3 linked regions of the Homo sapiens genome follow. The protein of the gene in region 1 purifies or fractionates together with the protein of each later gene. This does not show direct contact. Each region holds a gene or a part of one and is shown on either strand. Other genes may lie near its edges. The genes, in order: RAB6B, RABGGTA and MTMR1.

Region 1 (3,647 bases):
TGCCATGATAGGCCTTGCAGGGCAGAGCAGCTATAAGGCAATACCCACCACTCGGCAGCCTGCACACCCAAGGGGAGGGGAGGTAGCTGTCCTCAGAAGCCTCAGTTTCACACAGCCTGGTATCCCTTCTGATGTGCCTCAGGCCATGTGAACCCAGGCCCTTGCGGGCCCAGCTCCCACCTGCACTCAGGTGTGGAGGGGGCCTGTGGTCAGAAGAGAGGTGGACAGAAGGGGTGGGCAGAGCCAGGGCAGCAGGCTGGGTGGCGGGGGCATGCACCAGCGCGGGGACATGCATGCTTCCTTGTGTGATTTTTAAGGCTGTGGACAGCACCTAGGGCATTCGCCCACTTCAGGGTAACCACAGCCCTGAGGGCTTATCAGGTGTGTTCCATTACAAGAGCCTTGCAGGTCTGGCCTCTGCCTCGGCCCCCCACCCCCACCTCTGGCCCTGTGCGCCCTTGAGGCTGTGCAGTCCTGTTAAGAACACCTGCCCTGGCCTGAAGAGCCACAGTACTGGAGAAGGGTTACCAGCCTACTGCGCTTCCAGACCCCCTTGCCTACCTTCCCAGGGAGTCCTGCACCCACAGCTGCTGGGCCGGGGTTGGCCTAGGGACCAGCGTCTTCTCCCATGGTGACACACATATAGAAGTAGCTCCTTAGGGAGCTTTCTGACAGCCAGGGAGAGGGAGGGTGCAGAGAGGCTGGAGCAGGGCCAACCTTGTGAGCATCTGCTCACACCACAAGCTGGCCTCCACTCCGAGCAGGACCAACCTGGCCCTATAAACCCCTGTCGGTTGCAGGAGGGTGGGGAGCAGTGGAAACCATGTTGGTGTTCAAAGGCAACTCACCACTGCTCCCTGCCTTTCTGCATTCAGGGAGCAATCGCACACACATGCGTGTGCACACACATGCGTGTGCACACACATGCACACAGGCCTGGCCAGGGTCACACCTGGGCCCTGGACCCCCTATGAGCCACCCTCCCTTAGGAGCAGAGCCTCACTCACTTGTGATGTCGTACACCACCACAGCCACCGTGGAGTCCCGGATGTAGCTGGGGATCAGGCTGCGGAACCTCTCCTGACCAGCTGTGTCCCAGAGCTGCAGTCGCACCTGTCTCAGGGAGGGCAGGACCATGGGCAGAGGGGTCAGTGGGGCAGTGAGGTCCTCCTGGTCCGGGGGACTGGGAGAGCCGGGCTCTGCAATGCTGGCATCACCAGCTCCAGCCCCTAGTGTCGGCAGGTGCTCTCAGTGGTGCCCAGCTAAGGGTCCTAGGGGATAAGCCCAAAGGAACCCTCCCTGCCCCTCCCAGTCCTGATATTAGGTGCTCACCGTGCGGTCCTCCAAGTACATGGTTTTTGACAAGAAGTCAATCCCAATGGTTGCCTGTTAGAGAAAAGCACAGAACGGTCAAAATCAAAAGGTCTCATGCAAAGGGGCAAAAGCCTAGCGACCACAGGTGGTGGCATAACCAGCAAGAGGGGACGCTCATGTCAGGTCTAATGTGGCCATGCTCTGTCCTCCCTGCCCCTCCCTGCTACCACTCAGCGGCTCTCTCACTGAGGGATCAAGCTGAGGAAAGATGAGGGTGGCCTTTATAGGGTGAGATCTTCTCTGGAGAGGGCAAGTGCTTCAGAAGCAGTGAGAGCGCAGTGGTGAGGAGGCCTCCCCAGGAGCAAGGCCACTCAGGCCACTCAACGCACATATCCTGCCCTCCCCACCTGGACTCCCTGCCTTGTTCCCTTCATGGCCTAACCTGCAGCTTCCAAAGCCTCTTCCCTCTGCCCTAAAGCATGGGCCTGGGCTCAACACTGACCTCGGGAGGGTGGGAGGCAGGGGGCAGGAGCAGGCAGCTTGCTGCTGTGTGGGTGCAAACAGCAGCATGGCTTTTCTCAGGTGCGGGCACTGCAGACCACCCAGAGTGGCCTCTCGCTGGGAGGCCCCACTGGCTCTTTTCTCCCCAAGCCAAAACATTGGAAGCTGTCACCAGCTCCCCTGTGCCACACCTATGCCTCTTCTGCCCTGGCACCTGTGAGAGGCAGCCAGCCTTGTGGCCAGATGGCCAGGACCCACCACTCACTTGCTGTGTGGCCTTGGGCAGGCAACCAACCTCTCTGGGCCTCACAGGCACCCGGTACCTGTCAGTAGGACTGAGATGCTGTCAATGTAAAATGGAGATATCACTGCTATGTAATCAATAATAACAAAGACTTGGACACAGCCTGAATGTCCACGGCACTAAATAAGCATAGTGTGGTATATCCATGTGATTAGAACCCTTGGCAGCTGTTAACAATCACATTCTTGAAAAAATATTTAAGGATTTGGGGAAACGGTTATCCAGTTAAAAAAACAAATAAACAAAAAACAGGTTATAAAACATCATGTGGCGAGTGATCCCAATTAGATTAACTCAAATAGATCTATGAGTATTTTTCATGTTTTCTTAGACACTGAAGTGAAGGGAATCTGCTAACATGTTAATAGCATCACGGTCTGAATAGTGACAGAGCATTTTCTTTCCTTCATTACACTCCTTCATTACACTTTTCTCTACTTTCCACAATGAACATATAACAGTACTAAAATTAGAAAAAGTCCTTTGAAATAAAGTTTAATAAATAAGTTTAATTGTGTGGAATGCCATGATTTTTGACTGCAAAAAACACAACCAAAGGAAGCCCAAGAAAATAGAAAAGGTCATATCTCCAGTCCCCCCAGGCTGAATGCAAAGGTATGCACCAATGTGTGTGCACAAGTGTGCATGTTTACACAGTCACACTCCCAACTCGTTCCACAAAGGACTGAGACTGGCTTGCACCCTCCTGGAAGCTTGCCTCATAACACAAAGATATGGGGGGTCATTCTACGCTCTGGAGCATACGATGCTAGAATGTGGGCACTAGACAAAACACCTTAGATACAATCCAATCAATCCCTTACTTTGGAGATGAAAGAACAGACCAGAGGGTTAAAGGACATGCCTAGTGTGACTTCACTCATCAGTAGCAGGGCTGGGAAGATCAGAGCTGCAAACTTGGCAGCACCTGGGCTCTTTCTACCACAGCTTCGCATAGTGTAGCCACCGAGGCACAAATCTGCAATGACCAGTGCTTGTGGATGCAGACTTTTTCCTTCACAGGTGTATGTTAGATTGACAATCCTTGTCTTCTGATTCCCTTATGGAGAAATGTGCATAGCAGGTAGAAGTCTCTCAACTCCTCAATGCTCAACAGGCTCCCCAGGAGTGACATGCTCCTTTTGTAGAGTCACCTTTGAACTAAAACCAGGTGCATGAGCTTAGGACTGGTGGCAGGGACTGCTGGTTGTCCCCAGTATGTAGTTTCCCTTTCTATAGTAACAGAATTCTGGGTGTGCAGATGGACTCAGGGCTGCCCCAAATAAAGAACATATTTCCCAGCCTTCTTTGCAGCTGGGCGGCTACATTCTGGTTAATGGGATGTGAACGTGATGTAGGCATCTTTGGGGTCAGGTCCTCTGTGGGTAGGGAGTACCCACAGCTGCTCCCTTTCCCACTGTCCGGTGGGGATGAGTCATAGTGGCCCATCCAGATGAGGATGACAGAGGAGCGATGACATCAACGAAGGCTGACTCCCTGACCCTGAGGAGCTACTTCAGCAGCGCTG
Region 2 (3,707 bases), on another chromosome or scaffold:
GCCCAGCCATGTCTGGGTATCCCAGGATTGGTGGGGCAGAAGTTGGGGTCTGGGGCAGGGCTGGGTGGGACAGTCAAAAAAGTGGTTAGGCTGGGGCATTTCCTTGACCCAGTACTCCCAGCTCTGTGACCTGCCTGCTGCCTCCCTCAACGACCAGTTGCCCCAACATACATTTCGCGTCATTTGGACAGCAGGCGATGTCCAGAAAGAATGCGTGCTTTTAAAAGGTGATGGAACCTGCAGCCTCCACCCCTTGCAGCAGCCCCCATCACTCTTTTCCTCTCAAGGGTGCACCCTCCAACCACCTACTCTTTCCCCAGGCCGCCAGGAGGGCTGGTGCCGGGACTCCACGACAGACGAGCAGCTATTCAGGTGGTGATAGGGAAGCACAAAACAAGGAGAGGGGCTCTGGACTCTGGGCATCAGGCAGCCAGGGCAGGAGGCTGGGGCCTCAAGGAGCTGTTTCAGTCTAGATACTGGGAATGTTGACCAGTGCTTCAGGGCTGTGGGCCTCAACTCCTCCCCACCCTGCCCACCCTCAGGTGTGAGCTGTCAGTGGAGAAGTCCACAGTGCTGCAGTCTGAGCTGGAATCCTGTAAGGAGCTGCAGGAGCTGGAGCCTGAGAATAAATGTGAGGCCCCATTCCGTGAGAGTCTGCTCCCAGAGCCCGCTGAGGAAACCCCTTTCCAGTGTGGCCCTGAGAGGACAGCAGGAAGGCCTCAGGAGGATGGGAGCAGAGGAGGTTCCAAGAGAAACCCTCCTTTTCCCTGCCCTCTCCTCAGGGTGCCTGCTTACCATCATCCTGCTGATGCGGGCACTGGACCCCCTGCTGTATGAGAAGGAGACCCTGCAGTACTTCCAGACCCTCAAGGCAAGTTCTGTCTGCAGAACAGACCAGGGGGAGGCCCAGCAGGCAGGAGGCAGGCAGCTGACATGCATACCCTGCCCACCTCATCCACTCCAGGCCGTGGACCCCATGCGGGCAACGTATCTGGATGACCTGCGCAGCAAGTTCTTGCTGGAGAATAGCGTGCTCAAGATGGAGTATGCCGAGGTGCGTGTGCTGCACCTGGCTCACAAGGTATGGGCTGCCATGCATGCCTTCCCCTGGCCCTCATCCCGCTGGCCTCCCCACGTCCCTGACTTTGCCCCCAGTCTCAGGTGCCTTTGTGGACTTCCAATCAAGATAGAGTTCATCCCTGCCTCCCAGCTTGCTCCTCTTCCAGGCCTTTCTGTCACTCAGCCCATTCTTCTTCTTGCCACTCACTTTCAAATCCCGAGTCACCAGGACCTCCTTGTGCTGTTTCTTCCCCAGGCTGGTCACAGCTTCATCTTCCTTCAGAGTGACCGCTAGCCCACTCCTCCCACACATTCCAGCACATCTCACCCTGGAGCAACCTCCAATACCTGAAGGCCAAATACTTTCCAGAGATTCCTGAGAAGTTGTCCAGGCTCCACTTTCCTAGTCCTTCCCAACACATTAGTTTTATCACATCACCACAGCCCACCTCCATTCCTGCCAAACTCATCTCTGCCTCATCAGGACCAGTCCCCATGGGGGACCAGTCTTTGTTTACCCAGCACCCTCCACTGGCCCCTGTACCTCCGAACTCCAGGCCTCCTCCTCCTCACCCACCCCACTGGTTACCCCACTCGCAGCACTGTCTGTCCCACGTCATGTACTGCTGTGGGCTGTAAGGTCAGCTTCCCACATGCTCCCATCCTCTTCTTGGCTGGGGTCCCCAAGGGCCTGTGGGGCACAGAGGGCATGTGCCTAATAAATGCTGGCCGAGGACCCTCTCCCAGGTCTCCTGGGAAGCCCATCACCTCCTTCCTCCCTTCACCCCCCAGGATCTGACAGTGCTCTGCCATCTGGAACAGCTGCTCTTGGTCACCCATCTTGACTTGTCACACAATCGCCTCCGAACCCTGCCACCTGCACTGGCTGCCCTGCGCTGCCTTGAGGTAAAGTACCCATGTCTCCGTCCCTGTCACGGGTGGTTCTTTTCCTCTTCCTCTCCCTCAGAAGTCTGCCCATCCTACAAGGAGATGTGCAGGACCCTCCACCCCGAACAGGTAACTGCGTGCCTTCCACCTCCATCACGCAGCCTGACCCTGTGAGCCCCTCTGTGCTCTGTGGACCCGTCACCCTGAGCTCCTCAGTTGCTGAACCATCCCTGGCTGACAGCGCCTGTCCTGCCTCCCTGCCCTCCCTGCCCCCAGGTGCTGCAGGCCAGTGATAATGCCATAGAGTCCCTGGACGGCGTCACCAACCTACCCCGGCTGCAGGAGCTGCTACTGTGCAACAACCGTATCCTTCCTTCTGGGTGCCTTTCAGACAGTGGGTAAAGTGAGGTGCCACCCTGGGAAGGGACAGACAGCAGGCAGGGTATGTGCCACCCTCTTGCAGGGCAGGAGAGAGGGGGCTCTGTAGTGTGAGTTGAAGGGGGAGAGCCTGGGGCTGTCGGGCTATCACTGACCTGCACTGGTGGAGTTGTGCGGAGTGGACTTCCTCAAGTCAGAGTTCACAAATGGGCAGCCCGCAGCTGTTCTTCAGGTCTATGTAGTTTTTTGAAAATCAGGAACTTTCATACTTTAAAAAACATCTAGAGTTCTAATTCCTCTCTTAAAAATTGGAAGTTAGAGCAACCTTACACTGGTATTTTCACTCAGCAGCCCTTGGTCATTGCTGAATAGTAAATGTCTCTTTGGACCAGGCTAGATTTCCACCTTATCATACCCTGCACCACTCCCCTGATACTACACCAGCTTGCGTGGGGTGTTGCGGCTCATTCTTTCCTGGCTGACCCTGTGGGTAGGCATTTGCAGTCCCTGCCTAGAGCCTGACTCCCTCCAGGGAGCATATGAGATGCCCATCAAACAGACTTCCAGGCAGCAGTCCCCAGCTCTTGAGGGTACACAGGAGCAAATAAATTGGGAGGAACCTGCCAAGCTTTCCTTGACTCTCCTGAACAAGGCCTCCAGCAGCCTGCAGTGCTCCAGCCTCTTGCCTCCTGCCCCAGGCTGGTCCTCCTCAACCTGCAGGGTAACCCGCTGTGCCAAGCGGTGGGCATCTTGGAGCAACTGGCTGAACTGCTGCCTTCAGTTAGCAGCGTCCTCACCTAAGAGGCCCTGCCCCCTACCCTTGCCCTTTAACTTATTGGGACTGAATAAAGAATGGAGAGGCCCTCTCAGGCTACCAAGCTGTTGTCGCTGCTATCACTACACCACCACCTTCATCACTTTTATTTTTTGAAAAGAAAGGGAAGAGACATGGGGTGTTGCCAGCTCCTTCTTTCTGCGCCATCCTATTGTTTCCTCTCAGAGAGAGCCAAGGCTTCAGTGTTTGGGGCAGAATTCAGGGTGAAGGCTGAGCTTTTGTTTACCTTCTGGTTTGGGGTGGGGGCTGGGACTGGGTCTAGATTCCAAGCAGGAATAGGGCTTGGGCTCAGGTTCTGGCTCTGGTAAGCTACAGAGCAGCTGTGAGTTTCTCCAGCTGGAAGCATCATACAATTTTTTCCCATGACCCCTGCACCTTCCACATGTTCCCCCTGCCCTGGCCCCCATTCACCATAGCTGGGGAGGCTCAAGGGCTCCACGTTCCCAGGAATGGGCCAGGGTGTCCTTGCTCCGTCCTGCCTGAACAACACTATCGGTCCCCATGAGTAGCATTCTACGGTTGAAGTACCTTTGAGAATACTTGATAC
Region 3 (3,253 bases), on another chromosome or scaffold:
GAGATGCTGTTGGCTTCAGGAGCTTTTCACCATCCAGACTCCTGGAGCGGCCAAAGTCTCCTGAGGCGTTGACCGATCTCGCGTCAGGTGGACAATGGGACCCCATCCCATGAGCTTTGGCTGCCACTGAGGCCGCCCTGCAGCTCCGGGGGCCGAGCCGCTGAGCCGGGATGAAAAGGCACCATGGGGAGGCTCCCACAGTTTCTCAGAAGACAAGCAGGCACGGGGACACTGCGCACCATGGATCAACCGAGGGCGCCGTGTGCAGACTCGGCACGAGCAGTGTCCTAAAGACTGTGCGTCAGAAATGTTTCCACGCAGACCCCTTTCCAGCATCTCCATTATCTCTGTATTTTTGCATTTTTATAAATAGCTCTGCTGACTGAAAATCCTTCTGTTAAATCAGCACTTTTTACAACTTGAAGCTGTGTTTTCATCAACCGGAGCAGGATCTGCCAGAAGCCCCCCGGAGCGGGCAGTGCCGGCAGGGGGGTGGGGAGCCTCCCCAAGGACCAACCCCTCCCTCCTTGCTCAGCATCACCGCAAGGCCTCACCTTTAATTAGCTTTTCTCTTTTAAACCCATCAACTGTGGGGCAGGGGTGAATATAAACAAGAAAGGTTTTCCCGGGGCATATGGGACATCCAGTCCTGCTATTTTATAGTCATAGCACCCAACCCACTCGCCTAACAAGCTGTCCCCAGCAGCTACTAGGAGGCCAGACATCCGAGACCCAGCTTTTCTCACCTGGAGCTCTTTGGCTGGGGGCAAGGCTGACCAGAGTGAGGGGTCACCGACTGGGCTGAGGGAGAAACAGGGTGGGGTCTGGGGAGCTCCCTAGCCTTCCCTTGTCTCTGATCCCATGTGTAAACAGCAGCCACAGGGCTGGCTCCTAAGCCTCAGCCAGGCCATGTGACTGGCCACTTAACACCTTCCAGGGACTTCTTCCCCCTGCCCTGAGAGGGGCCTCGAGGCCCTCTGCAGTCTGGCCCCAGCCTGGCCCTCTGGCTCATCTTTCACCAGGTCCTTCCCCCACTCCCTCAAAGACTGAGCTGTTCCACCGTGTGTGCCAATGGTGATCAGCCCTCCTGGAGGGAAGGGGGAGACGGAAGGAGGATGAGAGCGAGACCGCAAGGGGGCAGCCAGGTCCCTCTAATAACAAGGTGCTCAGTAACCAGCACCCAGTGGGCTGAGAAGAAATGACCCCCTTGGGCAGGCCACAGGAAGAACAGAGGGGACAGGAGTGGAGTGTGATGGCAAAGGCAGATCCCACAGGCCTCTGGGAGGTGGCACCAGCTCCTCTCTTACCCTTAGGACCCATCTGGCATGCGTTTTCCTGTCTGTAGGATCATTTAATTCTGATCAGACAAGGGACGCCTTGCAATCAAGTTCCCATTATCCATCTACAGGCATGTGACCTCAGCAAGAAGCAAGACACGCAGGGAAATACACCACTGACACACACCCAGGGCAGACCCAGCACTGCTCAAACGCACCACTATCATCTCTTCACCAGCTGTTTGCATCTTTTCTCACCTATTTCTTTTCTTTTTCTTTTTTTTTTTTTTTTTGAGGCGGAATGCAGTCTCACTCTCTCCCCCAGGCTGGAGTGCAGCGGCACGATCTCAGCTCACTGCAACCTCCGCCTCCCGAATTCAAGCGATTCTCCTGCCTCAGCCTCCTGAGCAGCTGGGATTACAGGCGCCCGCCACCACTGTGTCTGGCTAATTTTTGTATTTTTAATAGAGATGAGGTTTCACTATGTTGGCCAGGCTAGTCTCGAACTCCTGATCTCAAGTGATCTGCCCGCCTTGGCCTCCCAAACTGCTGGGATTACAGGCGTGAGCCACCGCGCCTGGCCTACTCACATATTTTCATTTGCAACAAATCAAGGGCATGCCTGAAGGAATAGAAAACTCGGAGGCTTAAACAGAGGATTGTGTTAGAGAAAATTCCCATCTAAGGGCCAGTCATGTTTGCCGCATGGGTACTAGCATCACAAGACATAAGGCAAGACAGTCCCAAAGGAAATAGGACGCCCCTGGGCCTTCCACACCCAGCCATCCTCTGATGGATGCCCAAAGAACCCCTTTCTCGGCAGCCAATCGAGCCACTGCCTTCTCAGAGAAAAGAGGCCCAACAGGCTTGCATCTGCCCTGTCGTTTACCCCCCTGCACTCCCTCCCCTCCCCTCTCTTCCTCCTTCTCTCTGCCTCACCTGGCTCCTCAGGCCCTGTCACTGGACACCCACACCAGCCACTGATCTCTGCCTGTCTTCAATGCACTCCCCCACCCCCATTCCCACACCTAGGAGGTGTCCGACACATGCCTGTTGCATACAGGATAACAAGCTGCGGCCCATGTACTCTTTTTTGGTTCTCTCTTCTGTGTAGCACAATGGAGGGAGAATGCAAAAAGCAGGACCACACACCTACTACCCTCCGAGCACAGTGCACTTGGAATGGATTCACTTCCTGCTCAGCAACCCCCTGTGAGGTCCCCGTGAGGCTCAGGACCCTGCTGCAGATCAGGCGGTGAGTCACTGCCAGAGACGGGATCTGGCCCTGTCGGGGGCATCCTTCCACAACTACACGCACTGGGCAGCAAGATTTCAACCAAGTCACTGCTTCTCTGACCCTTCCCTCATTCTCTACGTCGTGGAATTGCTGGGAGCGTTAACTGGGATCATGTGTGTACAGAACCCACTGGCACACAAGAGGACTGCAGGTTATAGGCGCTGTCGCTGTGGTTTCCATCATCATCATGATGTTGCAGGTGGCTTCGCCTACATGAGTGAGAACCTGACCACATCTGGGAACAGATCTGTCGCGCAGTTTGTAGGTTTTAGGAAAGGTCTGTTACCTGCCTCACGCGGCGGGCAAGAATCTGAGCCTGGGTGCACCCCTGTGGGACACCACTCTAACCCTCTCTGCTGGTTCAGCATTTCTTCACCTCTGCAACCTGCTGCACAAGGGGGAGCGTGGCAGGGGTACGGGGGTCTCCTGCAGTAATCGAGAGGCTCTGTTTAGCCAAAGGCACTCCAGATCAGGCATGGTTCTGTTGGATTTTCTGCTAATGTTCATGACACTCCACCAACCACCCGGGCCTTTGAGTCACCAAGAATATCACCTGGTAACCCTATGTGATTTCAGTAACATAGTGACTTCTGACACTCTGTAGCCCATCTTCCCTGTTGCCAAAATAGATGAAATAGAAGCCACCCAGGACAGAATAACTCAGCAAGATGCCTAAGTA

Evidence for each region.
Region 2: the proteins of RAB6B (region 1) and RABGGTA purify together in Homo sapiens (co-immunoprecipitation; 3 studies listed by BioGRID and IntAct, with this or other methods). This does not show direct contact.
Region 3: the proteins of RAB6B (region 1) and MTMR1 purify together in Homo sapiens (co-immunoprecipitation; 3 studies listed by BioGRID and IntAct, with this or other methods). This does not show direct contact.

What each region holds. Positions count from the first base shown.
Region 1 is NC_000003.12:133,840,278-133,843,924, forward strand, and holds part of RAB6B (ras-related protein Rab-6B), read right to left. Parts: intron 1,387-3,647; coding exon 1,333-1,386; intron 1,114-1,332; coding exon 1,008-1,113; intron 1-1,007. UniProt on the Homo sapiens protein: The small GTPases Rab are key regulators of intracellular membrane trafficking, from the formation of transport vesicles to their fusion with membranes. Rabs cycle between active GTP-bound and inactive GDP-bound states.
Region 2 is NC_000014.9:24,265,034-24,268,740, reverse strand, and holds the end of RABGGTA (geranylgeranyl transferase type-2 subunit alpha), read left to right. Parts: coding exon 1-16; intron 17-121; coding exon 122-227; intron 228-320; coding exon 321-372; intron 373-542; coding exon 543-631; intron 632-782; coding exon 783-871; intron 872-964; coding exon 965-1,081; intron 1,082-1,851; coding exon 1,852-1,965; intron 1,966-2,223; coding exon 2,224-2,311; intron 2,312-2,977; coding exon 2,978-3,126; 3' UTR 3,127-3,203; downstream 3,204-3,707. UniProt on the Homo sapiens protein: Catalyzes the transfer of a geranylgeranyl moiety from geranylgeranyl diphosphate to both cysteines of Rab proteins with the C-terminal sequence -XXCC, -XCXC and -CCXX, such as RAB1A, RAB3A, RAB5A and RAB7A.
Region 3 is NC_000023.11:150,759,249-150,762,501, reverse strand, and holds part of MTMR1 (phosphatidylinositol-3-phosphate phosphatase MTMR1), read right to left. Parts: intron 1-3,253. UniProt on the Homo sapiens protein: Lipid phosphatase that specifically dephosphorylates the D-3 position of phosphatidylinositol 3-phosphate, generating phosphatidylinositol. Could also dephosphorylate phosphatidylinositol 3,5-bisphosphate to produce phosphatidylinositol 5-phosphate.